Linked DNA regions of Homo sapiens: regions 1 and 2 are each linked to region 3. Evidence: fine-mapped expression QTL. A gene starts in region 3. Each other region holds a variant in brackets. All regions are shown on one strand. Distances are between the middles of the regions.

Region 1 (11,068 bases), 85 kb before region 3:
ACCTATTGTTAGTATCCTACATTACTGCAGGATATTTGTCACAACTAAGGAACCAAATTTGATACATTACTATTAACTAAATCCCACAGTTCAGATCTTTAGTTTTTTTCCAAATATTATTTTCATTCCAGGATCCCACAATTACATTCAGTTATGTCTCTTTAACCACCTCAGATGTTTTTGTTTTTAATGACTTCAGATTCCCAACCTTTTTAACTTTTTTCACGTCAGATGGGTAATGTCCTGATGTAACAAGGTGTGAAGGAGGCACATCTCACACAGAAGTGTGAAAGCCCAGTCGTCACGCTTATGAACTACAGAAGGATCCCAGACTTGTTTTTGATGACCATGACAGTGTTAAGGGGTACTAGCTGGTTTTGTAGAATGTTCGTAAGGTGAGGTTTTCTGATTGTTTTCCTTCTGGTCTTAGGAGGAAGACCACAAAGGGGCATTTTCATCACATCAAGGGTGCATATTTTTAATAGGGCTTATCACTCATTATATTAATACAAATTTTGATCACCTGGCCAAGATAGTGTTTGCCAGGTTACTATAAATTTTTTTTCTTCTTTACATATTGTACTCTTAAAGCAAGTTACTAAGCACAATCCATACTCGAAAGGTGGAGAGTTAAGCTCTATCTCCTTGAAGTGGTGAGGGGCGGGGGGTATCTACATAATTATTTGGGCTTTTTCTGTATAGGAGAGATGCTACCGCTCCATCAGGTCATATACACACATGGACTCATGGGTACTTACTTTATCCTTTGGGTTATAATCCTAAGGTGCATTATTTACTTTGTTGCTGAGATTTGTTTCATCTTTGGCCATTGGGCATTCTATCAGTTGGCTCCTGTGTCCCTTTCACATGCCTACATCCTTGTTTGTGGAACACTTCTTTACTTTCTGGCACTACAAGATGCCCTAGACCCAGAATCAGCCATTTCTCTAGGGAGCCCTGATTCCTTTTCTTGGAGAATGGTATTAGAAAACAAGATCTGGGCATTGGATGTACCCGTTGCTGCTGGCATGTCTGCTGCTAGGCCCTCTCAGTGAACAGAGATATATGCCTGTGTAATAACCCAAATAGACACACATAATTGTAATTACTTTCTGAATCCTTCCGGAAAACACAATTTTTTTTAAACTAGTAAAATATACATAAAACTTGCTGTTTTAACCATTTGTAAGCGTACATTTCTGTGGCATTAAGTGCATTCACATTGCTGTGCAACCATTACCACCATCTGTCACCAGAATTTTTCATCTTCCTCCAACACAAACTGTACCTATTAAACACTGACTCCCCATTCTGCTCTTCCTTAAGCCCCTGGGAACCATCATTTTACTTTATGCTTTGACTATTCTAGGTACTTAGTGTAAATGGAGTCATACAATATTTGTCCTATGTATGACTGGCTTATTTCACTTATCATGTCCTTAAGTTTCATCTATGTTGTAGCATGTGTCAGAATTTGTTCTTAAAGCTGAATAATATTCAATCGTATGCATATACCAAATTTTGTTTACCCATTCATCCATTGATGGATACCTGGGTTGTCTCTACCTTTCAGCTATTTTGAATAATAGGGCTGTAAACACTGGTGTACAAGTATCTGTATAAGTTCCTGCTTTGAATTCTTTGGGGTATATACCCAGAAATGGATTTGCTGGATTATATATGCTAATTGTTTTTTTTTCTTTTTTAAGAAATCACCATACTGCTGTACCATTTTACATTCCCACCAACTGTATACATGGGTTCCAGCTTCTCTATGTCCTTGTCAACACTTGTTCTGCTTTTTTGATAATAGCCACCTTAATAGGTTTATAAAGTGGTATCTCATTGTGGTTTTGATTTGTACACTTCCCCAGTGATTACTGATGTTGAGCTTTTCTGTACTTATTGGACATTTCTATATCTTTTTGCAAGAAGTGTCTATTCAAGTACTTTGCTCATTTTTTTCAGGCTTTTTATTGTTGCAGGATTTATTTGCAAATGTTTTCGCCCATTCCTTGGGTTGCCTTTTCATTCTGCTGATAGTGTCCCTTGATGCACAAATTTTTAATTTTGCTGAAGTCCAATCTGTTTTTCCTTTTGTTGCCTGTGCTTTTGGTCATACCCAGGAAATTACTGCTAAATCCAATGTCATGAAGCTTTTCCATTTTTTTTTTTCTTTTTGAGATTGAAAAAAAAGACAGGCTGCTTTTTTCTGTCTTTTCTTGCTCCGTCGCTCAGGCTGGAGTACAATAGCGCAATCGCGGCTCACTACAACCTCCGCCTCCCACATTCACGCAATTCTCCTGCCTCAGCCGCCTGAGTAGCTGGGATTACAGGTGCCCACCACCACACCTGGCTAATTTTTGTATTTTTAGTAGAGACGGGGTTTCACCATGTTGGCCAGGCTGGTCTCCAACTCCTGACCTCAGGTGATACACCTGCCTCGGCCTCCCAAAGTGCTGGGATTGCAGGCATGCACCACCACACGGGGCCAATAATTCTTTTTCTTCTTTTTTAAAGAGTTTAATGATTCTAGCTCTCTTTTTTCTTCCAACCTTAGTGGATGGAGCTAGTTCTTGATGGATTTTAAGTTAATATTTGTATATGGTGTAAGGGTCCAACTTTTTTTTGTATGTAGATATCCAGTTTTCCCAACACCATTTGTTGAAAGGACCCTATTTTCTCCACTGAATGGTCTTGGCACCCCTGTCAAAAATCTGACTATATGTGTAAAGATTTACTTCTAGGCTCTTTATTCTATTCCATTGGTTTATATGCTAATTTTTATGCCAGTACCATACTGTTGGTTACTGTAGTTTTGTGTTAAATTTTGAGATCAGTAAGTGAAGACTTCCAACTTTGTTCTTTTTCAAGATTATTTTGAGTATCGGGGGGGGGGGTCTCTTGACATTCTGTATGAATTTTAGGATTGATTTTTCTATTTCTGCAGAAATGTTGGGATTTTCATAGGGACTATTGAATCTGTAGATTACTCTGGGTAGTATTGACATCTTAACAATATTTATTAAGTCTTTGACTCCATGAAAATATGATACTTTTTTTTCTTGGCCTCCCAAAGTGCTGGGATTACAGGTGCGGGCCACCGTGCCTGGTGAAAAACATACTTTTATGTCTTCATTTTGTATGGCAACATTTTGAAGTTTTCAATGTACAAGTCTTTGCCTCTTTGGTTCAGTTTATACTATTGTAAATGGTGAAAAGCACAATTGTAAAGGAAGACAGATAGGCATACCATTAAGTCAAGGTATTCATGACTTGGTCTCCTTGCTTTTATGGGAGGCTGCACTGTAACTAAAGATCTTTGGGACGTTGTAAATTTTTTTTTTTTTTTTGAGATGGAATCTCACTCTGTTGCCCAGGCAGAAGTGCAGTGGTGTGATCTCGGCTCACTGCAACCTCCGTCCTGGGTTCAAATGATTCTCCTGTTTCAGCCTCCCCAGTAGCTGGGATTACAGGTGCACACCACCACACCTGGCTAATTTTTGCATTTACTTATTTATTTAGTTAGTTAGTTAATTTATTTTAGTGGAGATGGGGCTTCACCACATTGGCCGGGTTGGTCTCGAACTCCTGACCTCACGTGATCTGCCTGCCTTGGCCTCCCAAAGTGCTGGGATTACAGATGTGAGCCACCGCGCCCAGCCTAAATTTTTTTAAGGCTAATATTTATGTGTAATTCTAAGTAAAGTATCAAGTGACTGTTCCTCCTTATATTGTGTTACAAAGATCTTTTCAAATTAATTTAAAATTAGTTATAAAATAACTTTCTAATTTAGGGCAACACTCCTGTAGTCCATTTTTGTGCCCCACATCATGTATAGCACCTAAAAGAGTGCTAGCTCATGTAGGTGGCCAAAAAATGAGAGTGAAGATTCAAAAAAGAAATGTTGTTATTTAGGGTAAAAAAAAAGACAATCATCAATCAACAAACTAGGCTGGAATTACTAGATTTTATTTTTCCCCAGAACTCTTAAACTTCAGCTTCACCAAGTAACAGGCTGACTTTTGGAATAACAACTCTTTCCCAGGCTGTTGTTAACTCTTTCCAAGAGACAGAATTTATTAAAAAACATGGTTCCAGGATATTTCCACCCCAGAATTCTAAATCAGTCACAGAATCATACCTTCTTAGGTCTTGATTAGAATGAAACAATCTATAGACACACGTAACAGAATCAAAATATTATGTAATGTTTTTTGCCTTCTCTTGCTCAATACACTTCCCTCTTTTCCCCCAAAGAGTTTGTTACTCAAAGATAGATAGATATGTAAGTAAGTACAGTCAGCCCTCCATATCCATGGGTTCTGCATCCATGGCTTCAACCAACTGCCAATCAAAAATATTCAGAAAAAGAAAAATTCCACAAAGTTCCAAAAAAGCAAAACTTGAATTTACTGAACACCAAGCACTATGTTGAATCCATGCAAATGAAGTGATGTGTAGGTATTTTATTAGGTATAAGTAATCATCTTCAGATGATTTAAAGTACACAGGAGGATGTATGTAGGTTATATGCAAATACCATATAACCCATTCTCTATAATGGGACTTGAGCACCCATGGATTCTGATATCAAGTTGGGTTCCTGGAACCAATCCCCCATGGATACCAAGGGATGACTGTATTGCCCTTTTCAAGAAAGCATCTATCAGCTCTCATTCGTGACTCACTCAGAATAAGGAATTCCTTATTCAAAAAACAATGTAAGTATTCCGAGCTAACTGTTCTCAGCCATGAACAAATTAAACTTGGCCAGGTGTGGTGGCTCATGCCTGTAATCTCGGCACTGTGGAAGTCAAGGTGGGAGGACTGCTTAAGCCCAGGAGTTTGAGACCAGGCTGAGCAACCAATGAGACCCCCTCCCCGGCCAAAAAAAAAAAAAAAAAGCCAGTCCCAGCTACTTGGGAGGCTAAGGTGGGAAGATTGCTTGAGGCCCGGGAGAACAGGGATTCAGTGAGCTGTGATTGCACTACTGCCCTCCAGCTTGTGCAACAGAGCAAGACCCTGTCTTAAGAAAACAAATTAAACTTATTTTACTCTATATTTGACTTTGCTTTAATCAATATCTTCTATTTGCAAAAGCCAAACCCTATTTTTAAAACTCCTTACAATTTCCATTATGACTTGGAAAGGAAGATGGAGGGAATGGGGAAGAGTTGGCTTGTTTTGTGGAAGGAGATTCTGAAAAGGGCAGTTATTTACTTTGAAGTCATAAAGTAGAAAAACAAATGTTCTTTTTTTTGATAATGAAAACCCTTGTAGGTAAAGACCAGAAAATTCTGGTCCTGAAATTATAACATATTACAATATTGTTTTTAATATATGCAGAATTTATATTACTTTTTAATTTCTTTTCCCTGAGATTGGGTTCACAGTTTGGTAGAAATACTTTAAAGAGGTAGTTAGCAGGGGTGAAGAGGAAACAATGTTTATACTAACAGCACCTGGAAAAATAAGTAACAACTGTCATTTTGATCTCAGCATCTACCTCTCCCCCTTGAATCTGCAAATGCTATAGAAGGAGATGATCATTTTCCTTTTTATTCTTATCTGCCTGGATTCTCTCTCCTATTAAATCCACCCCAGTATCACTAATCATAAAAATGAGTTGCC[T/C]TTCCAAAGATATGCTATAAAGCAAACCTTCAATATCAGGTTGTTTAGATTTAGAAGAGAAAGGCTCAAGTAAGTTCACTTTTATTCATACAGTCATTAGAGAAAATGAGCAAAATTTCCAGTAACCCCAACCACTGCCTTTTCTCCCTGGACCTAGTAAATTCCTATCAACTCTTTAGTTGACTCTAAGAACTGGGCTCTATGAGATCCTGACAGCTAAAACACAGGTACAGAGGAGCCTGCATAAACGTTTTGGTCCAGGTCTTGGCCTCCAGTCTTATGATGGGCTGGTAGAATATTGCTTCATCAGATGCTTGTGACAGGGATTGCAAACTCGCTCAAGCTTGATACTTGAAGGAAGAGGCAGTTCATTTGTTGAACAGGCATCACAGAAGGTTCCGCTGCAGTTCTTACACACATTCTATGAGAAGAGGAGGTTAGGCGGGGAATAGAAGATGAGCAAGGCATAAGGATTCATGGGATATAAAAAGCCAAATATGGCAAATGCTCAATGCCTAATCAAACAATGACTGAATGTTTACTATGTGCCAGGTAGTATCTGAACACAGGCCCAATCTACAAAAAAGTTCACCGTCTAGTTTTTAGATTTAAATGAAAAGAAGCAGTGCCATAGAGTTAAAAATAAAAACAGGTAACATACAAGTCACTTATCTTTAGAATATCCTTCACACATCTGTTCCCCATACTCACTTTGAGGTAGGTTAGTTTTAAAATTAGTTTGCAAGTACCTGCGCATACTCCAAATAAGGCAGTGAAAGAGCAATGGATTGAGTGAACAGGCTAAGATTTAAAAATGTCCAGAGTATGAACTGAAAGTATAATTCCTAATAAATACACTGATGTGCTTTATGCTTTCCTGTGGTCTCTGGTGCTCTGTAAGCACATCCACTGGGTTATCAATGCAGCAGGAGCACAGCTTCCTGCATCTTGTTCATAGGGAAATTATTTTGTTTTCCTAAATGTTTTGCATCTTTAATGGTCAAGCACAGAGAGCAAGAAGTCACTATAGCAATGTCAGCAGTAAGGCTGTGATAGGGTGGTATACACAAAGCTCCAAGGGTCCTATATAAAAAGCTGTAAAGAATAATTTCTCCCATGAAGTGCTACCTTCATCCCAAATAATTCATCTTCCTGAGGTTGAGAGGAGTAGGGGGTTGCTTTTATCTGAAAGCCTAAGAAGAATTTTTGTCTGACATACAGAAGCTAATATTGCATGGCTTAGAAGAGGAAAGCCAGAATTAACAGTTTGTTCTACTTTGTAACATATTTCTATAATTGTAACTTCCAGTTCTATAAGGGCAGTTCATTTGTTATCTGATTCTGTGAATTTAAGACTAGGTCATATTATAATTTATTAAAATTTTGCATGATCACAGATGGTGCTATGCAGGTTGTGATCCAGAATTTGAGCCTGTTTCCTGTATCTCTTCCAAGCATGTGTTTCATACACTCATTTGTACATAACTTTTCTTGAGGATCTACTATGGATTGGGTACCATATTAGATGCTGGGGGATTCTGTGAACAAGACACAGTTCCAGCTATCAAGGGCACTCATTCTTTCTGAATACTTCCTTAACTCTGCCTACTCTAGGATAACAAACTGGGAAGATGCTCAGGCAGGCACCCTTGAGGATCGGGTGGAAAACAAGTGGTCTAGCAGGGAGAGCTCATATCCTGTTCTGAGCAGGATAAAGTGCTGAAAGGACTGTGGACTTTGGAGCGAAAGCTAGGTTGGAAGCTGGGCTTCATCACTTATGACTTAATTTTGGGAAATGTAGTTAGCATTAGATGTTCAACGTTCTTCATCTATAAAATGACAGCTATGAAGGACATAAGCTTGACAAGAACAGAGACTTGGTCTACTTTGTTCATTACTCTTTCTCCAGCACATTCTACACAGCAGGCACTCAATATTTACTTATACATTTCTATCTGCTTATTTGCTTTATTACATAATTATTTTTGTTTGTTTATTTATTTACTTATTTTTAGACAGAGTCTCGCTCTGTTGCCCAGGCTGGAGTGCAATGGTGTGATCTTGGCTCACTGCAACCTCCGCCTCCCGGGTTCAAGCGATTCTCCTGCCTCAGCAACCTGAGTAGCTGGGATTACAGGCCACCACGCCCGGCTATTTTTTTTTTTTTTTTTTTTTGTATTTTTAGTACAGACGGGGTTTTACCATGTTGATCAGGCTGGTCTTGAACTCCTGACCTTGTGATCGGCCCGCCTCGGCCTCCCAAAATGCTGGGATTACAGGCGTGAGTCACCGCGCCTGGCTATTTATGTTTATTTTAATGGGAATTTTCTGACATGAATTATTATGACTGAAAAAACAGGTACCCAGTAAATGCTTGCCCCTTTTGCTTTTCACCCCACTCCCAGCACTCTGCATGCACTCTGCACTCTATGCGGGAAAGTCCCTGTTACTCCTGGGGAGGGACTGGGGGCTGCTGTAGACATCCCTATGAAAAGCCTGTCCGTTTCTCATCACAGTTACCTTTGTTAGGCTGCCGTCTTCCTGGCATAGCTGACACAACTGTGGCTTTTCAGAGAGCAGCAGCTGATCCTAAACCACACAGGGAGCTGGTTAGTTTTTCTTAGTGCCAGAAATATTAGTACTTTCAGAATATGCATTTTTTACCTACAATATTAATATAATCACACTATAGACTATCTGGAAACTAAACCAATTATAAATAGGTAGTCCTACCACCATAATACAACTCGGATAATCCTATCATTATGCTTCCAGCTCTTAATTTTTATAATAACATGATTTCTAAAAAGAAAATTCAAACACATGCAAGTATAGAGTAAAAAGTTTTAACACTATCCCATTCCTCTTGTTCACTCTACCATCAAGAATGGAAAGCACTGGGGACTGGGCCTGGTGGCTCACGCCTGTAATGCCAGCACTTTGGGAGGCCAAGGCAGGTAGATCACTTGAGGTCAGGAGTTCAAGACCAGCCTGGCCAACATGGCAAAACTCCATCTCTACCAAAAATATATATATTAAAAAAAAAAAAAGTTGGACATGGTGGTGGGCGCCTGTAATCCCAGCTACTCGGGAGGCTGAGGCAGGGGAATCACTTGAACCTGGGAGGCGGAGGTTGCAGTGAGCTGAGATTGTGCCACAACACTCCACCCTGGGTGACAGAGTGAGACTCTGTCTCAAAAAAAAAAGGAAAAAAAGAATGGCAAGCATAGGGCATGGAAGCTCACACCTGTAATCCCAGCACTTTGGGAGGCCAAGGCGGGAAGATCACTTGAGCCCAGGAGTTTGAGACCAGCCTGGGCAACACGGTGAAACCTAATCTCTGCAGCCCTAGCTACTCGGGAGGCAGAAGTGGGAGGACTGCCTAAGCTCGGGAAGTTGAGGCTTCAGTGAGCTGAGATCGTCCACTGCACCCCAGCTTGGGCAATGTGAGTAAGACCTTATCTCCATTTAAAAAAAAAAAAAGGAAAGCAGTAGGACTTATTTTATTTTATAACCTAAGAGGTAAATGACAGGGTGACTCAGACACAGTAGCATTCACTGTCTTTCTCATGGGCTTATCATATACTATTAGATTAACAAAGTGTTTTACAATCATTTATGTTAGCTTATTTCTAAGTGATCAAAACATCTTTTTTCTCTCCATTTTATGTAAGGAAAAACTAGAGGAAAGGGACATAAAGTGAGCTCTCCTAGATCTTATGTCAGGGATAATTTAAAATAGGTGAGAACTGATGTTTACTTAGTAAACTGCTCAAAGCTGTGCTACTTCCTGTGTGAGCTTCAGGCAATACATATTTGTTCAGGGTATTGTTAGAAGGATGGCACACTGTATTCACTCATCTTCCGCCCATGCTACCTTATTTGCTGGCTAGGCACGGTACAACCAACTTCATAATTCATACAAGATGTTTTGAAACAGGAGGCTCTGTTACCTGTTCATCCATAGGGTGGGGTTGCAGCCTACAATGGAGAAGTAAAAAATTGTGACAAATAGGAACTTCATGTATTTTCATTTATATCATTTCAATAAAAAGCTCAGAATACAAACATTTTTTTCAAACAAGAAATACTGTAGGTCTTTTATATTACTTAGAACAACATAATTATTAATTTTGACCTCCAAGGAGAGGAAACTTTGCTTCTTAAAATGAATCACTAGAATCTGACCCTTGACTTATTATATAAGGGTTCCCATTTAAAAATAGATTTGAAGTTATATTTTACATTCCTTTTTGCTATCAAAATAGTTAGCATTTATGTTTCCCAATGTGTAAAACTCCAATGGTTCACTGGCCATATATTTTAGTAGCTTTTTTTCTATTTGATATTATGGAAATCTATCCATTATCCATTATCACATGTTGTGTATCAGTCCCAAATATTCTTAAGATGTGAGCTTTAGCAAATTAACCCAAGAAGGGGAAATGAATGAGACTGTCACCAGAAAACCCATTCAGGTTGAAATATTTCTTCATGAGGGACTAAGCTGAGCTAACTCCGATGTTCCAGCATGGACTAGAGCCTAAATGAGAGGTGAAGCAAAGCCCGCTCTCGGTTACAGGGAAAATGCACTACAGATTGCAATGGTTCTTATTCTTTTCACTTGAGTAGCAGTGTGACCACCAGACATACACCATGGGGTGACCAGGTTTTCCGATGTTCCTTGCCATCATAATCCCAGGAAGCCTGGTATGTCTAACGATTGCAGCTATGGCCAGAATAAGTCCTGGAAGTTGCTAATAGGTAGTGCAGAGCCAAAGGACTTAAAAACAGTAGACATGATAAACAGAGGCAACTTGGATAAGTCACCCAGCCTCTCTGCTTCTCAGTTTTCTCATCTGTAAAGTTGCATTAGGTACTTTTGTAAGGAATACTGAATCATAAGGAGATAATAAATGTGAAACAAATTCTAAGTTGCAGAGCACAATTCAGATATAAGGAAGCACTGTTCCATATTCTCAGGACCTAAATCAGAAGTTGGCATTTAAGACACTCCTGGTTGCTCAAGTAAATGATTTGATTTTAGTTTGGAACGAGGCTGACCCTGAAAGGCACCTGGAAGCCCAGGTTAATTTTATGGCCCTTCTAGTTCCCTTCTCTTTGCTTATGCCATTCTGTAATGTGAGATGGGTGATAGTTTAAAGTTAGCTCTGGATCAAACCATGCTCTTTGGGAGCAAGGCCAGAAAGGGACATTTAGGCCAAGCACCTGCATAATTAGCTTACTATTGGACTGTGTGTTTTCTCTTCTCCAGCAGCTACTTTTGCTCCAGATGACACACTACCTCATTCTTAAGGTGACGAAGCCTGGCTAGGGACAGCTGTATAGTTCTCTCAAAACCTCACTGTGGTATCATTCCTCATCACTAACCTCTTCCTCCACCTTTTAAAGTAGACCTTTATGTTTAGAGCA
Region 2 (8,000 bases), 430 kb before region 3:
ACCTTCATAATACCAAGCCTTTGAAGAGCCATAGCCATAAGCTCATTTCCAGGAAGATAGAAAGGTTATCAAGTCTGTAGAGGCAAAGCTCCTTGAACAAATGCAAACCCTTGTCAGTGACCCTCACATTGGCTGTTTTCAAGCCCTGATGACCAGCATAGACCTTTTAGAGGTCACCTCTCCTGAAAGGAACTCCCCAATCATAATCTACTCCAAATCCGCATATGTCTTGAATTATGGTAGGTCTGAACAAACATCCAAGACTGTATGACATTGTTTTGTTCACCTCACTGCCTCATCACTCTCTCCTGTGTGCTAGACTAGACTGGTGGCTACTGATGCTCCTGCATCACATACTGATGACCCTGATTATGTGCTTCCAGCCCACTGGTGACAAGAACAAGGGCGTGGAGTAGAGGGTCAATAAGAGGCATTGAGAGAGAATGAGTAGAAGTCCTAAAACATTTCCATCTGTCTCTTTACTGGCTACTAATCGGTGAAGTAGACAGCGAGTCTGGCCTTTTGCTTGTAAGGTGTAGTGTAGATAATGAAATATTTTATTTCTAACAAAGACGAAGAAAAAAAACCAAGACATATTGAGTGCCTACTATGTACCATGCCAAGTGCTGAAGGCTTTACATGTGTTATTTCATTTAATCTTCACACTACTCTCTGAAAAAAAGTTTTAGAACCCTTCATTTTACTGATGAAGGAAGTGAAGCTCAATGAGGTTAACTAACGACTAGCCAATGGCCAGAGACATCTAACAGGAGGAGAGCTGGGTTTCAAAACCAGGTCTGTCTTTTCGTCACTCCCTAGTACTTCCAGGAAGCCAGTTGTGATGATTAATACTGAGCGTCAACTTGATTGGATTGAAGGATGCAAAGTATTGATCCTGGGTGTGTCGGTAAGGGTGTTGCCAAAGGAGATTAACATTCAAGTCAGTGGGCTGGGAAAGGCAGACCCACCCTTAACGTGGGTGGGCACCATTTAATCAGCTGCCAGCTTGTTTAAAATATAAAGCCTAGCCTCCCAGCCTACATCTTTCTCCTGTACTGGATGCTTCCTGCCCTCAAACATCAGACTCCAGGTTCTTCAGTTTTGGGACTCGGACTGGCTCTCCTTGCTCCTCAGCCTGCAGATGGCCTATTGCAGGACCATGTGATCATGTGAGTTAATACTTAATAAACTTCCTTTTATTTTTATATATATATATATATATACACACACATATATTTATATATATACACATATATATTTATATATACACATATATATTTACATATATATACACACACACACATATATATAGGATATATATATGTGATATATACCAGTCCTTTTCATCCAAAATGACACTTTCCTGAGGATAAAATAATTCTTCCTTTTATTTAGTGAATGAGCAAATGGAGAGTATTATGCAGTATAGAGATGAGGGGAGAAATGAAGGTGAAATAAGCATAGAAAAAAGATCAAAGAAAGTGGGCTGGGAAAGGCAGACCCATCCTTAACCTGGGTGGGCACCATTGGGTAAATATTTTAGGAATCTGATGCACATGTGCGTCAAGAGATGTGTAAGAATGTCCTTTAACCTGAGGAAGCTGATTGGAAAAAAATAGTGTGTCCATAGTACCTCAGGTCATAATAGTGAAAGAAATAATGCAGAGAACCCAAATGCCCATTAAGAGTAAAACCAGTAAATAAATTGCTGCATATACTCAAACAATGGATTATTATACAGATATGAAAACGATGAGCTACATGTGCACATATTAACATGAATTATTCTCAAAAACATAATCTCGAGTGAAAGAACTAAGTCTCATAGAATAACATTTCAAGTGAAAGAATCCCCCAAATGTAATGTTGAGCCAAAAAAGCAAGTCATAGAAAAATGTACACAGCATGATTCCACATATGTAAAGTTCAAAAATGGGCAAAAATATATGTTGTATTATTTAGAGATAAGCATATATGTAATAAAGGTATTAAAGATCAGAGGAAATATTAACACAAAATTTAGAATAATGGTTACCACTTGGTGAGAAGGGAATACAGAAGGAGAGACGTACAGAAAACATGTAATGTAGGAGTAGTCTTCTAGGTCTTTAGCTAGCTGATAAGAATGTAAGTATACTTTATATTATTTTCTTAAATTATTTATAGATACACATTATATATACCCTTTCTATATATTTAAAGTTCTTAAACTTTTCTGAAAGAAAATTTTTTTTTGAGAGGGTTTTGCTCTGTCACCCAGGTTGGAGTACAGTGGCATGATCATGGCTCACTGTAGTCCCAATACCTGGGACTACAGGTGTACACCACCACACCTCTAATAAAAATTTTTGTATTTTTAGTAGAGATGGGGTTTTACCATGTTGGCCAGGCTGGTCTCAATCTCCTGACCTCAAGTGATTTGCCCTCCTTGGCTTCCCAAAGTGCTGGGATTACAGGCATGAGTCACCGTGCCCGGCCTTAATTTTTTTTTTTTTTTTTTAGTAGAAATGGGATCTCCCTATGTTGCCCAAGCTAGCCTTGAACTCCCGGGGTCAAGTGATCCTCCCGCCTCAGCCCTCCAAAATGCTGGGATTACAGGTGTGAGCCACCATGCGCAGACAGGAAATATTTTTTACGTATAAAAATATACACAAGAATATGCAGAAGAGAGAAAAGGCCTAAAAAGTTGATGAAAAAGAATAAACAGAGGAAAGAACAGATGGTGTTAAAAAACAGTAAATAAGTAGAGGTAAAAATGACATTAAATGTCATTAAAGGTAAAAATGACAAAGGCTATGTCAGAGAGAGAAAATGAAGACTTCATCAGAGATCACCTTGGACCATCAGAAGAGGTCAGCAGGTCAGCAGAACCAGAGAAATGCACTGAATTAGTTCCTTCAGGCCAGTACTCTAAAGAAGTAGGGCAAAACCTACCGTTGATATAGTCTATATGTCATTAAAATGAGTAAGATGTTTGTTATTAGGAATACATGTTTAAGTTAAACACACAACAAATGTTAGTCATTGGAAGAGGTTGGCAGCAAACCAGTAGACGCAGTCTACCAGTGCTGTGGCACAGAACATTCTGTGATGTTGGAAATGTTCTAAATATTCACCATCCATGTGGCAATTTAATATTTGAATTGTAGCTAATGTGACCAAAGCACTGAAATTTTAATTTGATTTAAATTACTTTAAAATTAAATATAAACAGCCACATGGGGCTAGTGGCTACTGTATTGAACAGCACAGGATATTTTCATGTCCTCACAATTAGAAATGAAAATCATGCAAGAACAATTTGAGGCATGGTCTTTCAAATAGCAAACTATTTCTTCCCCAACATACCTGATTGAACCATAACTCTTCTACAAACATCCCCAGATTCCAGACCTTTGAGCGCATAGAAGTAAAATATAAGAAAAATGCAGAGAGCTAATGGAAAGGGGAAGGGAGGCCATAGAGAGATAGTGGTCCCAGAACACTTGGCAACTTAAGGACCGCAAGCTGCCAAAGGTGAATTCGGGTCACAAATCCCAAGCGCTCTCACCTGCACTTCTCCCATTTCCATCTCTGCACACTTATATGAAGAGTTTGCTAGTTGAATGCCTTGATGGAATAAAGCAAAGGATTTCATTTTTTAAATCATCTTTTCTGCTTGTCATGCTGAATGGCAGCACCTTTATAGCATTTTGCAAACTAAATTCACATTTCCATTTAGGTAACGCATTTAGTTGAGTCTTCATTTGCCTTCTGCTGACTAAAAAAGGCTCTGTATTTACTGGCTTAGTTCTCTCTCTGCACATGAGGGAATCAGGATATTTACATACCACTATTTCTGGCTGAAACCAAACCTTGGTTCCCAGAGGAAGGCAACTTGCAGACCATCTCCATTTATGAGAAGGGCATCTGTTTCCCTAACCACATCTTAACATATGGCTCTTGGTTCTCCCCAGAACCCAGTTGCTATTTCACCCATTCCACCTTCAGCCAAACCCAAATTTCTGTTTCCAGATACTCTGTTTCCCTAGGCAACATCAATGTGTACAGAAACTCACTGCTTGGACACTCCAAGGATTGTCAAGGCTCAACATTTATTTTTGTAACAATACCAAAGATTAATAACATATTTTCTTTTTCAGTCATAAAATTCAAGGGGTATTGAAGCATTAAAGATGGTTTTATGAACATATACTACAGATAAGTAATTATAAGCAGGTATATTCACATGTATATAAAAAACCTAATCGTGTACCCTTGAGCCTAAAATGAAAGCTTAAGTTTTTTAAAAAAATAAAGAACATTAGTTTTAAAAAAAGGAATTCACACTTAAGTTGATCAAAAATTAAGTTAAGCCAGATGGCTAATTGGATTTAGGGGCTCCATTTGATGAATCAAAAAATATTACCATTGTTGAAAGTAAGCCAATAAAACTCTGGCTCTGGCTGCATTTTCATGGTGATAAGAACAGAAAAGCCATTAGTAAACAGTGAATCTCATCCAAACCTATCAGCACAGTTGACAAAACTGGTTTCAAGTAAAGC[C/T]TCAGAAGGTAAAAGGAAAACATGGCCCTCCTTAAGCCCCCATTCATATTTGGAGCACAGAGCCCAACATGTGACTGATGCCTAACAAACATTTGTTGAACACATAAATGATGAGAAATAAAGTAGAAAGTGCCTCCTTACCTAAGAGGACTTGCAGAATTTCTTGCTCACACCTGAAAGTTGTTTAGAGCTCTCCTCTCCAGTTTGATCCAGTAGCTGAAGGAATTTAATCCTCTCACACCCAATGCTTTTAATATACAAAATTTATGACTTCCTGCTCCTTGATCAAGTAGAGCTGTGTCTTGTTTCTATAACCTTTTTTAATCAATGCCCCAAAATCATATCAGAAAGGAGCCCAGAAAAAGACTATCATTTGGAGGAAAGAATCTTCTTATAATTTTTTTTCTCTGTTGAATCTATTTTGGGGCCTTTACTTTTAAACCAATAATAATAATAATAATGAGTGCCTTCATGCCATCTTCTAAAAAATAATGAGAACATTCAAGAAAGAGAATCATGCCATTCTAATTAAACTCACTGAGTACACCTGGCTTCAACTACTTTGTTTAATGTCAGTTTCAAGACCTAAGGCTATTTCTAGAGAGGACCTTAGAAAATTAATTTCTTTGAATAGCTATTATTAAAAAGTCAAAAAATAATAGATGTTAGCAAGGTTGCAGAGAAAAAGGAATGCTTATACACTGTTGTTGGGAGTGTAAATTAATTCAACCATTGTGGAAGACACTGTGGCAATTCCTCAAAGACCAAAAGACAGAAATACCATTCAACCCAGCAATCCCCTTACTAGGTATATATGCAGAGAAAGATAAATCACTCTATTATAAAGACACAGGCATGCATATGTACACTATTCACAATAGTAAGGATATTGAATCAACACAAATGCCCATCAAGGGGTATTTAGAATAAAGGAAATGTGGTACACATACACTGTGGAATACTATGCAGCCATAAAAAAGAACAAGATCATGTCCTTTGCGGGAACATGGATGGAGCTGGAGGCCATTATCCTTGGCAAACCAACACAGTAACAGAAAACCAAATACCACATGCTCTCTTTTATAAGTGGAAGCTAAAGGATGAGAACACATGAATGCAAAGAAGGAAGCAACACACACTGGAGCTTATCAGAGAGTGGAGGATGAGAGGAAGGAGAGGATCAGAAAAAATAACTGTTGAGTACTAGGCTTAATACCCGGGTGACAAAATAATCTGTATGACAAACTCCCATGACACAAGTTTACCTATATAACAAACTTGCACATGTACCCCAACTTAAAAGTTAAATTAAAAAAAGAAAGAAAATTAATTTCTTTGGAAGGTTTGGAGATCCAGTTTCTTTTTAGACAGACCCAGGACTTGTTTCACAAGGTCCCAGAAGAGCTCGAGAGAGACCAGTGGGAAAAACTTTAGCCCAGAGAGATGTTGACTCAATATGAAGAAGAGCTTTCCAATTGTCAGAGCTGTCTCTAAAATTATAAATATCAGATGTGCTATCTCAGGAACTTGGAAGTTCCCTGTCACTGCTCAGGCAGAGGCCAGAAGCAGAGAAGAAAGATGGAACATAAGTCAGTAGTGGGGTCGGTGATCTTTAAAGTCCCTTGCAGTTGTAAGTTTCTATGATTCCATGAGTCTCCTCCTGGCATTCTGAAATAAGTTTGTGAATCTAGTCACTTACCTGAACTTTGGAGGGCAAGGAAGGACATGGAAGAAAACACTAAATCTTGCTCACTGGTCAGGCCCAGGACTTTCTTGAAACCAGCCCAGTTCCCTCTAGAGTCACAGCTTATGGAGTGTGCTCTGTCCTCCCTCGGGACAACCAGGCCAGACTAGTACATTTACCAGGCATGTGGAATTCAACCAAAACAAATTCAGCCTTATAAATCTGGTAAACAGCTATTTTTCTGGCAACAATGCAGATGGGTGGTGGCAATGCCCCCTCAGGACCCCTCCTCAGAAAGACCCTACCTGGACAACCGTGAGATCCTACTGATTTTAATTCTGTGTTCTGAAATGTGATGTTCCATGTCACAATGCTATAAATTAGCTTGATATTCTGACAAGTGAACCCCTGCTGTGATTAAATCAAGCCCCATTTCTTTCCTATTTCCTCCTTCTCCAACTGTACTCCATCATAGAGCACTGGCAGAAAAACCCAAGTCCTTGGTTCATCCAGGGGAGAAGTGCAAGGAGAAAGGAAGGAAAAGCATCACTGTGGTGTGTGGGTTGCTTCCCCACAGTTGATTTTGGAATTCATCTCTCTGACTGCCTATTACTCACTGACCATCATGAACCACCACCTCCAAGGAGAGTTGGGAAAAAGGCAGACAGAGGTGAGGAGGATGAAAAGAAGACAGGAAGAGCAGGGGAAGAGAGAAAAGGCAAACATAAAGGAGAAGGAAGAAAAATAAAGAAATTTAAGAGGAGAAATTTGAAAGGAGAGAAAGGGGAGGGCTTCTTGTTAAACAACAAAATTCATATAATTCCTAATCCCCTGTGTAATTCTCTCAAAAAAGAGAGAAAAGTTTGTTTACCATTATGTAATGGCCTTCTTTGTCTCTTTTGATCTTTCTTGGTTTAAAGTCTGTTTTATCTGAGACTAGGATTGCAACCCCTGCCTTTTTTTGTTTTCCATTTGCTTGGTAGATCTTCCTCCATCCCTTTATTTTGAGCCTATGTGTGTCTCTGCATGTGAGATGGGTTTCCTGAATACAGCACACTGATGGGTCTTGACTCTTTATCCAATTTGCCAGTCTGTGCCTTTTAATTGGAGCATTTAGCCCATTTACATTTAAGGTTAGTATTGTTATGTGTGAATTTGATCCTGTCATTATGATGTTAGCTGGTTATTTTGCTCATTAGTTGATGCAGTTTCTTCCTAGCCTTGATGGTCGTTACAGTTTGGCATGTTTTTGCAGTGGCTGGTACCAGTTGTTCCTTTCCATGTTTAGTGCTTCCTTCAGGAGCTCTTTTAGGGCAGGCCTGGTGGTTACATAATGGTAAAGGGATCAATTCAACAAGAAGAACTAACTATCCTAAATATATATGCACCCAATACAGGAGCACCCAGATTCATAAAGCAAGTCCTTAGTGACCTTCAAAGAGACTTAGACTCCCACACAATAATAATGGGAGACTTTAACACCCCACTGTCCACATTAGACAGGTGAACGAGACAGAAAGTTAACAAGGATATCCAGGAATTGAACTCAGCTCTGCACCAAGCGGACCTAATGGACATCTACAGATCTCTCCACCCCAAATCAACAGAATATACATTCTTTTCAGCACCACACCACACCTATTCCAAAATTGACCACATAGTTGGAAGTAAAGCACTCCTCAGCAAATGTAAAAGAACAGAAATTATAACAAACTGTCTCTCAGACCACAGTGCAATCAAACTAGAACTCAGAATTAAGAAACTCACTCAAA
Region 3 (11,068 bases):
CTTAAAGGTCTAACTGAAGCGTTCTGCTTCCATTCTTGAAAAAAACAGAGAACACATGTTCTCTAAAATTTTCATGGTGCTTTAAAAGTTCCTTTACTTTGAAATTCCACTTACTTCCAACATTGCTTCGGTTAAAAAAAAAAAAAAAAAAAAGGAAAGAAATCCCACTACGCTTTCACAAAGTAAAACAAACAAACAAACAAAAGTCTGAGAGGTTATTTCAATGGTGGTACATGTTTCCCTAAATTAAGAAAATGCAAAATGAATTTTCTATAAACAAGGCTGCTCCTCTAGCACTGACATGGCACAAGCAAAGTAAGAAAGTAAGCCACATTCTCACATCTCTGAATGTCCATTTAAGTCTCACTCCTTTTATCTTCACCCCCGCCTTTCCATGTGAGGATTCCAACTCTTAATGTAAATTAGGGTACAGACTTAAGCCAGGATATGTAATCTGGAAAAGTATAAATCTGATTAATGCTTCTGTGGGGCGGGTAGAAGGCTCAACTGAAAGAGTAATGGGCGGGGCACGGTGGCTCACGCCTGTAATCCCAGCACTCTGGGAAGCTGAGGCGGGCGATCACCTGAGGTCGGGAGTTCGAGACCAGCCTGACCAACATGGAGAAACCCTGTCTCTGCTAAAAATACAAAATTAGCTGGGCGTGGTGGCGCATGCCTGTAATCCCAGCTACTTGGGGAGTCTGGAGAGTCTGAGTTAAGGAGAATTGCTTGAACCTGGGAGGTGGAGGTTGCAGTGAACTGAGATAGCGCCATTGCACTCCAGCCTGGGCAATAAGAGCGAAACTGTCTCAAAAAAAAGAAAAAAAAGAGTGATGGTAGTGCTTTTGTTAGTCACAATCTATTAAGCATCAACAACTCAAATGTTCTCTTCCTTCTATATTCCCTACTGGTAAAGGGAACCTAGCTTCTGCAGCCAGAAGTTGGAGAGTCATCCCAGGCACTGCCTTATGTTCATTCTCCAGCCACCCAGCCCCTCAGTCATCGGGTACATTCTGCTTTTCCAGGGATTGTTCCTTTGGTGTTCACTCTTGCTACCTTAATGTGAGATTGTCATCTCTTACCCAGACCATTTTAAAAGTTATAGTTAGGGGTCCCTGAGAGCTTATATCCTTCTGATCCATTCACTACACTGTTGCCAGAGTGATCATTCCAAACACAAATCTTATTTTATGTTACTCCCAGACATAAAGCACCAGTAGCTTTTCACTACAGAATCAAGTGCAGGCTTTTCAGTATGAATAAGATTTCTACAGTCAAGCCCCTGCTTATCTTTCCAGTCTTGCTCCCTGTTGTGCCAAACAGAAGCCCTCTGTGCTCCTGTTGCTATTCCCTGGCTGGGCCAGCTCACTGTGTACTGTTTGAAATGCCCTCCCTATGTCGGTCTGGTGATCACCTGTTTATCTCTTAAGGTCTCACTTAATGAAGCCTCTCCTGACCCTTCTCCTGTGGAGTCAATCACAGGCTCTTGCCTTTAGGGGAAATCTATTTGCAATTAAACTTGTTGTAGATTTGCTGTTGGCTTTTGAAAATAAGAGTATATAAGCCGGGCATGGTGGCTCACACCTGTAATCCCAGCACTTTGGGAGGTCAAGGAGGGTGTATCACCTGAGGTTGGGAGTTCGAGACCAGCCTGATCAACATGCAAAAACCCCGTCTCTACTAAAAATACAAAAATTAGCTGGGTGTGGTGGCGCATGCCTGTAATCCCAGCTATTTGGGAGGCTGAGGCAGGAGAATCGCTTGAACCCGGTAGGCAGAGTTTTCAGTGAGCCAAGATTGCGCCATTGCACTCCAGCCTGGGCAATAAGAACAAAACTCTGTCTCAAAAAAAAAAAAAAGAGTATATAAGACAAAAGAGAGATAATCCCTCATTGACCACCAATAAGCATTGAGATAATGAAGTGAATGCTTTTATTTTCATTTATTTAAGGGTTAAAGTAGGCAGAAACTCTAGGTCCAGGCCTATACTGCGGACTGCTCAGTGAAGGGCCAGGAACTCTGGTTTTAAGAAAATAAAATATGGAAGCCACAGAGCCTCTATTGCTGAGTACACACAGTCAGTCTACATCATTTTAAGAGGGAACATTATGCTGTTTGCCTATTTTCTTTTGTGGGAGTGAGGAGACTTCACTCTAGGATTTGGGTGGTCAGATGTTTTTCCCTCTGTGAATCAGCCCGGAAAGCAGTCTGAATACTCCCGCGTCCAGACATCAGGAGTTCCATTTTGTGAACAAGGTGAGATTCACATAATCATGGGCCTGGTGACCACCACTTAAATGCTTATAGCTAAATTAAATCTAATAACTATCAGTGGTATTAACATAAAAGTGGGTATTTCTTGGGACCAAATGACTGTTTAAATATCCAGAGTTTGGTAATGGAGCAAGGCAGTAATACTCACAGGCTTTCATGGGACTATGCTTTCTTTATTTTCATTTCTAGTAATTTAAAATAATAGCTTTCTTGCCCAATTTAAGGCAAAATTCTAAAATGCACTGTCGGCATTTCTCTATTTTCTTCCAAATCCTCTATAGTTGATTACAGGTCTTGGAAACTCTGTATTTATCTGATTTCTTTAATCAGCAGACATACAATTTATTACTTAGATTATAGCTCTCACACATTTTCCATACTGAGAAATGTGTTGCTACAGATTTCTCTATGAAGAATTCAAATGGCGCTGCTAAAAACGCTTACATGAACCAAACAGCTCACTTTTGCTTATCCATAGGAATCCTGCTCCAAAAACATATATTTGAGGTGTTAAAATTGTTAAAAATTATTTTTGAGACACTGGTAAACTAGATTTCATGATAAAGGGAATATTTCATATTGTATAACTCTCAAATTGGACGGGAATACATTTTTTTCAAACAAAATATGTAAACTGAGGCAGTTGCCAGAAGACTTCTTGGTAGCCTTCTAAAACTGTATTTTTCTTCCCTAAAGACTTTTAAAGCTTTGGAGGCTGTTTTAAGTAGTACTGGAATTGTTGGATGTAACGATGTTTTGATGAAAATATAGAATAAAATAATAATAAAAAATAAATAGTACTGGCATTGCATGGAATTTCAGCTGATGTCTTATAACTTGTGCACATAACGAAACATACAGCCAAAGAAAGCTGTCTAATTAACAAACCAATTGTTAAAAGATGCAAAGGGTCTTAAAAACCACTTAAACATTGTTCTTAAAGACACACCCAAAATGACTGCTTTGTGTTCTGTGTTATTAACCATCCCTAAAACTTTCTCAAGGCTAAGGCTGACTGGGAAGATAAAATGCTTATCAAACACAATGGGAAAATTCTGAGTCATGATAAGATTTCAACTCAAGGTCAAAGGCAGAGAATCACCTTTCCTAACCCCATCTGCTAGGTACAATTCACCTATGGTCTTCTTTGTCCTGTCGATGTGCCTAACTATCAGGCAGATGTTTATAAAGAATTTCTCCTCATATGCAAGCGTTTTTTGTTTTTTTTCATCAGTATAAGGACAGAGAATAAACCTTAGCTAAGAAGCAACTGTATTAAAAACAAAACGATTTGTAGCTATGATTCAAATCAGCTCTCTTTCTGTGGTATTAAGAGAATTAAAGGGTAGAAGCAGAAAACCTCTCATAAATTAGCAAGAGTCCTGGAAAAAAGTCGCAAGTCAAGAGACCACAAAGATCTCAGAGGTACTGACAGTGGAAATCTCAAATGGATCATAATAGTTACCACAAATAATTTATAAAAAGCAATGGCCAATAGATTCCAATATTACCATTCTATTGTAATCTATAGGGATGCCATATTAATCATATTTAACCTTTCCAGGCATTATGCTTTCTTAGGAGTCCATATTCAATAAATAAATGCTGAAAAGTTATTTTCTCATCTAACCTAATAATCCATATTGTTAAAAAAATGTTTTATCAAACATTTCCTAGATGTCATAACTTGCTTAAAATTGTATCCTCATATAATGGTGAGGATACCATTACCAAATACCCTGGTGTTTCTACTGTATTCATCATGTACAATCCTATAATTATAGTCATGTTGTCTTAACTTAGTGTTATAAATCACTACAATTTCTATAACATTTTCATATATGAACAAAATTAATAGCTTTCTCATTATTGAATAGAATCAGATGTGATAAGTGACCTCAAATGTTTTATTTAGAGGCTTAAAGACAAAGAACTCTAAACGAGTATCCAGCATCTTTTGAAAGGATACCTAAAGGGGCAAGAAAAAAAATTATCTTTCCCCCATGAGCAAGAGAAGGGGAGCTGGGTGGTAAGTAAGGATGCAAGGTTTTCAGGACTGTTAACAGTTGAGAGTGTAGGTTCTTTCTACCTCTCCCTGATCCTCCCAGCCCTCCCCCATAACAATGAGGATGCTGGTGAAATACTAGCGGACAGGATCTGACCATACCTTCATGGGTAGGCTCTGGGTCAGGTGTAAGTGAGATGTCATCCAGCTCTCGCAGGCAGAGCCATTCTCCATCCATGGACACTCGGAATTTGCAAAGGTAGATGGTCTCCATGGCAGCCTGTGTGATCTTGTCAGTGGTGGGGGTTGGCATATCGGTCGGAGGCGTCAGAGCAGACATGATGACTCAGCTGGGACCACAACACACACACAGACACACACACACTCACACACACACACCAAAAAAATAAATACAACCTCCTCACCAAAAAAACCCAATACAAAGCTCTGAAACAAAGCTTTCAGGAAAAGGGTGGGGGAGGTTTAAAAAAAAAAAAAAGGAAAAATACCTTATAGGTTAAGAACAAACTGCTCAAGATAAACAATTCTACACTATCTTATAGACAGTTCCTACCACATAGCAAAATAAGATGATGCTTGTCTTCTCCCAGCTTCCTCTCCTTTTATCTTCCCTTCCCTGCCCCCCACCTTTTTTTTCAGCTGAGCTATAGGCTTTAAATCCCGCACAGCTGATGCTGCCTTAGCTGGCTTTAAAAATCTGGCCTCGATATGAGTAAGTGAAAAATCCTCCTCCTTTGTGCAGAAAAAAAATATAAAAGAAAAACCTGAACAAAAAATAAACCTATATTTTCAATGTAGCTTAAAAAAAAAATCCTGAGCTGCAGAAATCACTTCCAGGATCTGCTCAGATGAGCTGGGATGCTGAGTTCTCATAGGATTGGCCGTGCGCAGTAAGCAGGGTGTTGACCAAAATGGCTGACTAATGAACTGAACTGAAAATTCAGGCTCATGTGACCAGCTGCTCTGAACGTAGGGCAAGCAATTCCCAGGATGCTTTATAGATGCTGCTGATGCTGGGAGAGCAATTAGGCTTCTCTCTCTCATCCTGTACAACCCACTTCCAGACTGTGCTAGTCAAACTGTGATCAGACATAACACAATGCACATATCCTCATCAATTCTTCTTACTTTGGGATCAAGGACTGAATAAAAGGATGACAATTAATACCGGATAATAATCTATAGTAAAGATGGTAAAAGAGGCAGTTAGATTAATTTAACAAGCATATAATTCACCTCTTTCATTCTTATCTACATAGCTATTAAAATTCTTTACTATGCTAAATGTTATGTTTTAAGAAAAGCTAAAGCATAAAAAATTGAGGTTCTCAGAGGGAAAAAAAACAAAAAGATAAAAAGAAAAGCTAAAGTAGATTTTCAATTTAAATATCTTATTCTTGGGCATTTATAATTTCCTTCTCCAAGGTACAAAAACCTGACCTTTTAGGTTAGGCAGAAATGCAAAAAAAAAACTTCAAGTTAAAAAAGTAAAATCTTTCCCAATTAATGGCAATTTCCCCCCTTTTTGATTTTGTTGTATTTATCAAGTTTCTGTATTAAGCATAAAATACGTTTCTTTTTTTTTCTTTTTTCTTTTTTGAGACAGAGTCTTGCTCTGTAGCCCAGGCTGGAGTGCAGTGGCGTGATCTCAGCTCCCAGGTCCAAGCAATTCTCTGCCTCAGCCTCCCGAGTAGCTGGGATTACAGGCACCCACCACCACGCCCAGCTAATTTTTGTATTTTTAGTAGAGACGGGGTTTCACCATCTTGGCCAGGCTGGTCTTGAACTTCTGACCTCATGATCCTCCCACCTCAGCCTCCCAAAGTGCTGGGATTACAGGCGTGAGCCACCATGCCCAGCCTTAAGCATGAAATATGTTTCTAAGCAGATTAAACCATGTTATATTTTTAAAATCCTCCCATTCGATAAGATACTGAAGACAATTATATTTTCTTAATACACACACACACACACACACACACACACACACACACACACACACACGGCCCTATATTATCCAATGAGGCATTTATACCTTGGTAGCAAAAGGGCAGGTACTTGCTTTATGAACTACATAAATTACAAAGAGAAGAATAAGAATTTTCTTTGAAAATGTTTTGGACAATTGAAAGAAAGTGTTTGTTTGTTTTTGTATTGAAGGGTTCCAATTTTAAGGAGGAACATACAAATTCAAGAAATATGACCTGAGACTATTCCTTTCTAGGGATTGTTATCAGAGGGACATCTTGATTTACCTAATTTCTGAAAACTAAAAAAATTCTCCTTGAATATTGTTAAAATCTCAAATGCTTCATCATAATTTGAGACTGAACTGAAAGAAAAAAATGCTAATAATCAAATTCTGTAGAGAAACTGGCATTTTCATATTGTTACGAAGACAGGGCGGATGGCTGGGCGCGGTGGCTCATGCCTATAATACCAGCACTTTGGGAGGCCAAGGCGGGCAAATCACCTGAGGTCAGGAGTTCGAGACCAGCCTGGCCAACATGGTGAAACCTCATCTCTACTAAAAATACAAAAATTAGTCAGATGTGGTGGCATGTGCCTGTAATCCCAGCACTTTGGGAGGCTGAGGCAGGTGAATGGCTTGAGCTCAGGAGTTTGAAACCAGCCTGGGCAACATGGCAAAACTCCATCTCTACAAAAACAAAAATTAGCAAGGTATGGTTGCGCGCACATGTGGTCCTAGCTACTTGGGAGACTGAGGTGGAAGAATCACGTGAGGCCAGGAGGCAGAGGCTGCAGTGAGCCGAGATCATACCACTGCACTCTACCCTGTCTCAAAATAAAAAAAAGAAGGAGGGTATACTGGTACAATGTAAGAAGGCATATATATAGGCTTATTTATAATTGGGGAAAATCAGTAAGTTACTAAGGAAAGCAAAATACTCCTGGTTTTATTTCTATCTCATTCTCTCTCATCATTACCCTACATCTAGACTCAGAGCCATTCATTCATTCATTCATTCAACAGATATTCACTAAGAGGTGCTCCACATGCCAGGTAGTGATCCAGGCACTAGGCACGCAGCAGTAAGACAGAAACACCTTTTCCAGGAAACAGAATTTTCATATCCAAATACTGAACACAAGCCTTCATTTAACACATTCTCATTTAATTCAGTTCAATTCCTTTCTAGCCAAAAATATTCCCATATTATATATTAATAAGGGGACAGTTTATAGATTCACTTTATATCATGCAATACTTCAAAACATAGTAAGTAGTCATTAAAACCTTCAAATTACATGGGACATTCCTGGAACCACAACTCCAAACAGCCCTAGCTATCTGTATGTGTGATATCAAAACTCTAGATCACTGATATGTTCTTAAAACAGAACAAGGAATACATGAATAAATCCGAATGCCATGTGATTGTCTGGGGTCCAAAACCTGAATTTGGCCTTGTCACAAACCACAACAATCTCTTCACCCCAGTAAGCATTTACTAACTTGAACAGATCTAGATTGATTGCAACATACCAACACAACAGGAACATCAAGGTTAGTGAGCAAGAAACTTGATTAACATTCCTTCGGAAGATCCATCCCACCCTGCCTCTCTCCAGGTAGAGGACACAGAGAGGCAAGCCCAAAACAACTAAAGTTTTTGGCAAGGAAAGAAAAACATGCCTGTATTGGTATCCTTGAATTTCCCAGATCTACCAGTTTGAGGTGTTGGCAGCCATTTCAGAAATAAGACCCGGGGGTGGGCAAGAAAAACTGTACTTCTACGCTGTTCTTTAGGTAAACACCATTGAGTCTTCAGCACGAACAGTTATCCATTGTTCACAGGCAAAGAAGTTACTATGAAAACAGTGCTATTTGTAGAAACTTATAAAAACAATTCTACGGCCGGGCACGGTGGCTCATGCCTGTCATCCCAGTACTGTGGGAGGCTGAGGCAGGCGGGTCACCTGAAGTCGGGAGTTCAAGACCAGCCTGACCAACATGGAGAAACGCCATCTTTACTAAAAATACAAAATTAGCTGGGCGTGGTGGCACATGCCTGTAATCTGCTACTCTGGAGGCTGAGGCAGGAGAATCGCTTGAACCTGGGAGGCGGGGGTTGCAGTGAGGTGAGATTGCACCACTGCACTCCAGCCTGTGAAACTCCGTCTCAAAGAAAAAAAAAAAAGATTTTAGATATTGCTTAGTACCGTTTTTACATTTTGGTCTTTACTAAGTAAACATCTTAGCTTTGAATATGAAGTTAAAGTTAAGCCATCAGTAAGATATTCAAACCTTGATTTTTTTTCTCACATACAGAGTAATTACTGTATGAGCTGTATTGAACTATTTTCTCATTTGATCCCATTTGTGAGTAATGGCACCTATTTGTAAGATGGTTGTGAGGCGGGTGGGAGTTCAGTCTGTGGCCCTAAAAGAATAGGCCTGTGTGAAGTTCAAATCCAAAATGAAGATCCAAAAAATACTACGTTCTAGCTGCTTAAACAGTCTGTATTTTCCACATTATGATGGATTCAAAGCAAATAAGAGTCACACTTCAAAGTCAGAAGTTACATTCCTCTTAAAGGATATTTGTACTCGGCTGCTACTATAAGACAAAGGTTAACTTGACAGGCTCAATGTCTCTGTTATATATTGTGGAAAAATTACCTAAAATAGCTATCATTTATTAAATTTCTATTTTCTGTTAGGTGCTTTACAAATGCCATGTAAAGGGCTGGGTGCGGTGGCTCACGCCTGTAATCCCAGCACTTTGGGAGGCCGAGGCAGGTAGATCACGAGGTCAGGAGATTGAGACCATCCTGGCTAACACGGTGAAACCCCGTCTCTACTAAAAATACAAAAAAATTAGCTGGGCATGGTGGTGGGTGCCTGTAATCCCAGCTACTCAGGAGGCTGAGGCAGGAGAATGGCGTGAACCCGGGAGGCGGAGGTTGCAGTAAGCCAAGATCGCGCCACTGCACTCCAGCCTGGGCAACAGTGTAAGACTCTGTCTCAAAAAAAAAAAAAAAAAAAAAAAAAAATACCATGTCAAGTCTTCACAAAAGCACTGCAAAACAGAGATTGATACCTTCTCTTTATACACAATGAAACCAAAGTTCAGCCACGTAACTGGCCCAGAATCACACAATTAGCGAGTAGCAGATCTGTTACTCCAAGCTACTTCTGTCTAGATACCTCCAAAGTCCATGTTCCTTCTACACTCTGCAACTTCAGCACTCTATCCTAACTCTTCCTCATCCCCGGATGTTAAATTTTATTCAGAGAAAATAAAAAGACATTTAAAACACACACACACAAACACACACACACACACGCAAAGTCTCTTCATGAAATTTCCTAAAGATGAGTTTCAACAAATTTAAGATTTGAAGAAATTTTTTTTATCAGCCTCCATACTTTACACCTTAATGCTGCACAACCCATACCTTCCTCTAGGCCCCCCAACTTACATATTAAGTTCAGGCTTTTAGTAAGTGGGCACATTCTGACAAACTGAGAACCCAGTATGGACTTTTCTGTCATGGGCTCACAAAGGGTAGATAAAATGCTTCCACTATGTACTTGGTTCACCCTACTACCACTCTGTCTCTGAGTTCCCTCCACATTTACATACTAGTTGGACACATTAAGAACACCTGATAAATTCCAAAATAGAAAAAGATAAATGAAGGGGGGAATCACTTTCTAAAATGATGCATTGTACGCTTTTTAAAAATAGCAAACTTAATGTATAATTTTAAGTCCTTAAAGAATATAACCAATATCCCTGAAACCCTTGCTCAACTGGAGAAATGGACCAACATATGTACTTATGTGCTCCTTCTTGCTTCTAAACTCCTGCCTCTCATTTCAAGGTAACCTTCTGAATTTCGTGTAAATCATTATCTTATTTCAAAAATATTGTCACAAATATATGAAGGTCTAAGCAATATGTTTAGTTTCAGTTTTTTTCAACTTTCTTATAGAAAGTGTTTCATGCTCTATAAAACTTTCTAAGCCTTTCACTCAATGCGTATTTTTTCTTTTCTTTTCTTTTTTTTTTTTTTTTGAGACAGAGTTTTGTTCTTGTCATACAGGCTGGAGTGCAGTGGCATGATCTTGGCTCACTGCAACCTGTCCCCTCCCAGGTTCAAGCAATTCTCCTGTCTCAGACTCCCGAGTAGCTGGGATTACAGGCACCTGCCACCATGCCCAGCTAATTTTTGTATTTTTAGTAGAGATGGGGTTTCACCATCTTGGCCAGGCTGGTCTTGAATTCCTGAACTCAGGTGATCTGCCCATCTCGGCCTCCTAAAGTGCTGGAATTACAGGCATGAGCCACCGCACCTGGCCTTCAATGCTGTATTTTCTAAGATTCATCCAAACCGTAGTGTGCATATGTAGTTTATCCTTTTGGCTGCTGTATTACAAGGTAGTGTTCCAATGCATGTACAAAAAATTTCTGATTCGGCAGGGCGCGGCGGCTCACGTCTGTAATCCCAGCACTTCGGGAGGCTGAGGCAGGTGGACCACTTGAGGTCAGGAGATCAAGTCCTGCCTGGCCAACATGGTGAAACCCCGTCTCTAGTAAAAATACAAAAATTAGCCAGGCAATGTGGTACGTGCCTGTAATCCCAGCTACTCAGGGGACTGAAGCAGGAGAATTGCTTGAAGCCAGGAGGCGGAGGTTACAGTGAGCCGACGTCATGCCACCACACTCCAGCCTGGGCAAGAGAGAGAGACTCCGTCTCAAAAAAACAATAACAAAAACACATTCTGATTTATTTTCT

The links. PIP is the estimated chance that this variant, and not a neighbour inherited with it, causes the effect.
Region 1: its variant is fine-mapped to the expression of RUFY3 in whole blood (TOPMed, PIP above 0.99). The same link has a PIP of 0.9 or more in NK cells and monocytes.
Region 2: its variant is fine-mapped to the expression of RUFY3 in subcutaneous fat (TwinsUK, PIP 0.95).

What each region holds. Positions count from the first base shown.
Region 1 is chr4:70,801,504-70,812,571 of GRCh38, reverse strand. It overlaps RUFY3 (RUN and FYVE domain containing 3), which reads right to left. Exons shown (of 18, transcript NM_001037442.4): 16 at 9,589-9,616; 17 at 8,156-8,224; 18 at 3,953-6,056. The coding sequence ends at 5,913. LOC124900900 (small nucleolar RNA U13) reads right to left here and starts at 326; the gene lies at 226-326. The variant T/C (reference allele first, on the strand shown) is at 5,636.
Region 2 is chr4:71,146,257-71,154,256 of GRCh38, reverse strand. It overlaps a transcript of SLC4A4 not described here. Among named protein-coding and RNA genes, the nearest start is that of SLC4A4, 37 kb to the left of the region's middle. The variant C/T (reference allele first, on the strand shown) is at 4,545.
Region 3 is chr4:70,716,125-70,727,192 of GRCh38, reverse strand. RUFY3 (RUN and FYVE domain containing 3) reads right to left here and starts at 5,229. Exons shown (of 18, transcript NM_001037442.4): 1 at 4,442-5,229. The coding sequence starts at 4,619.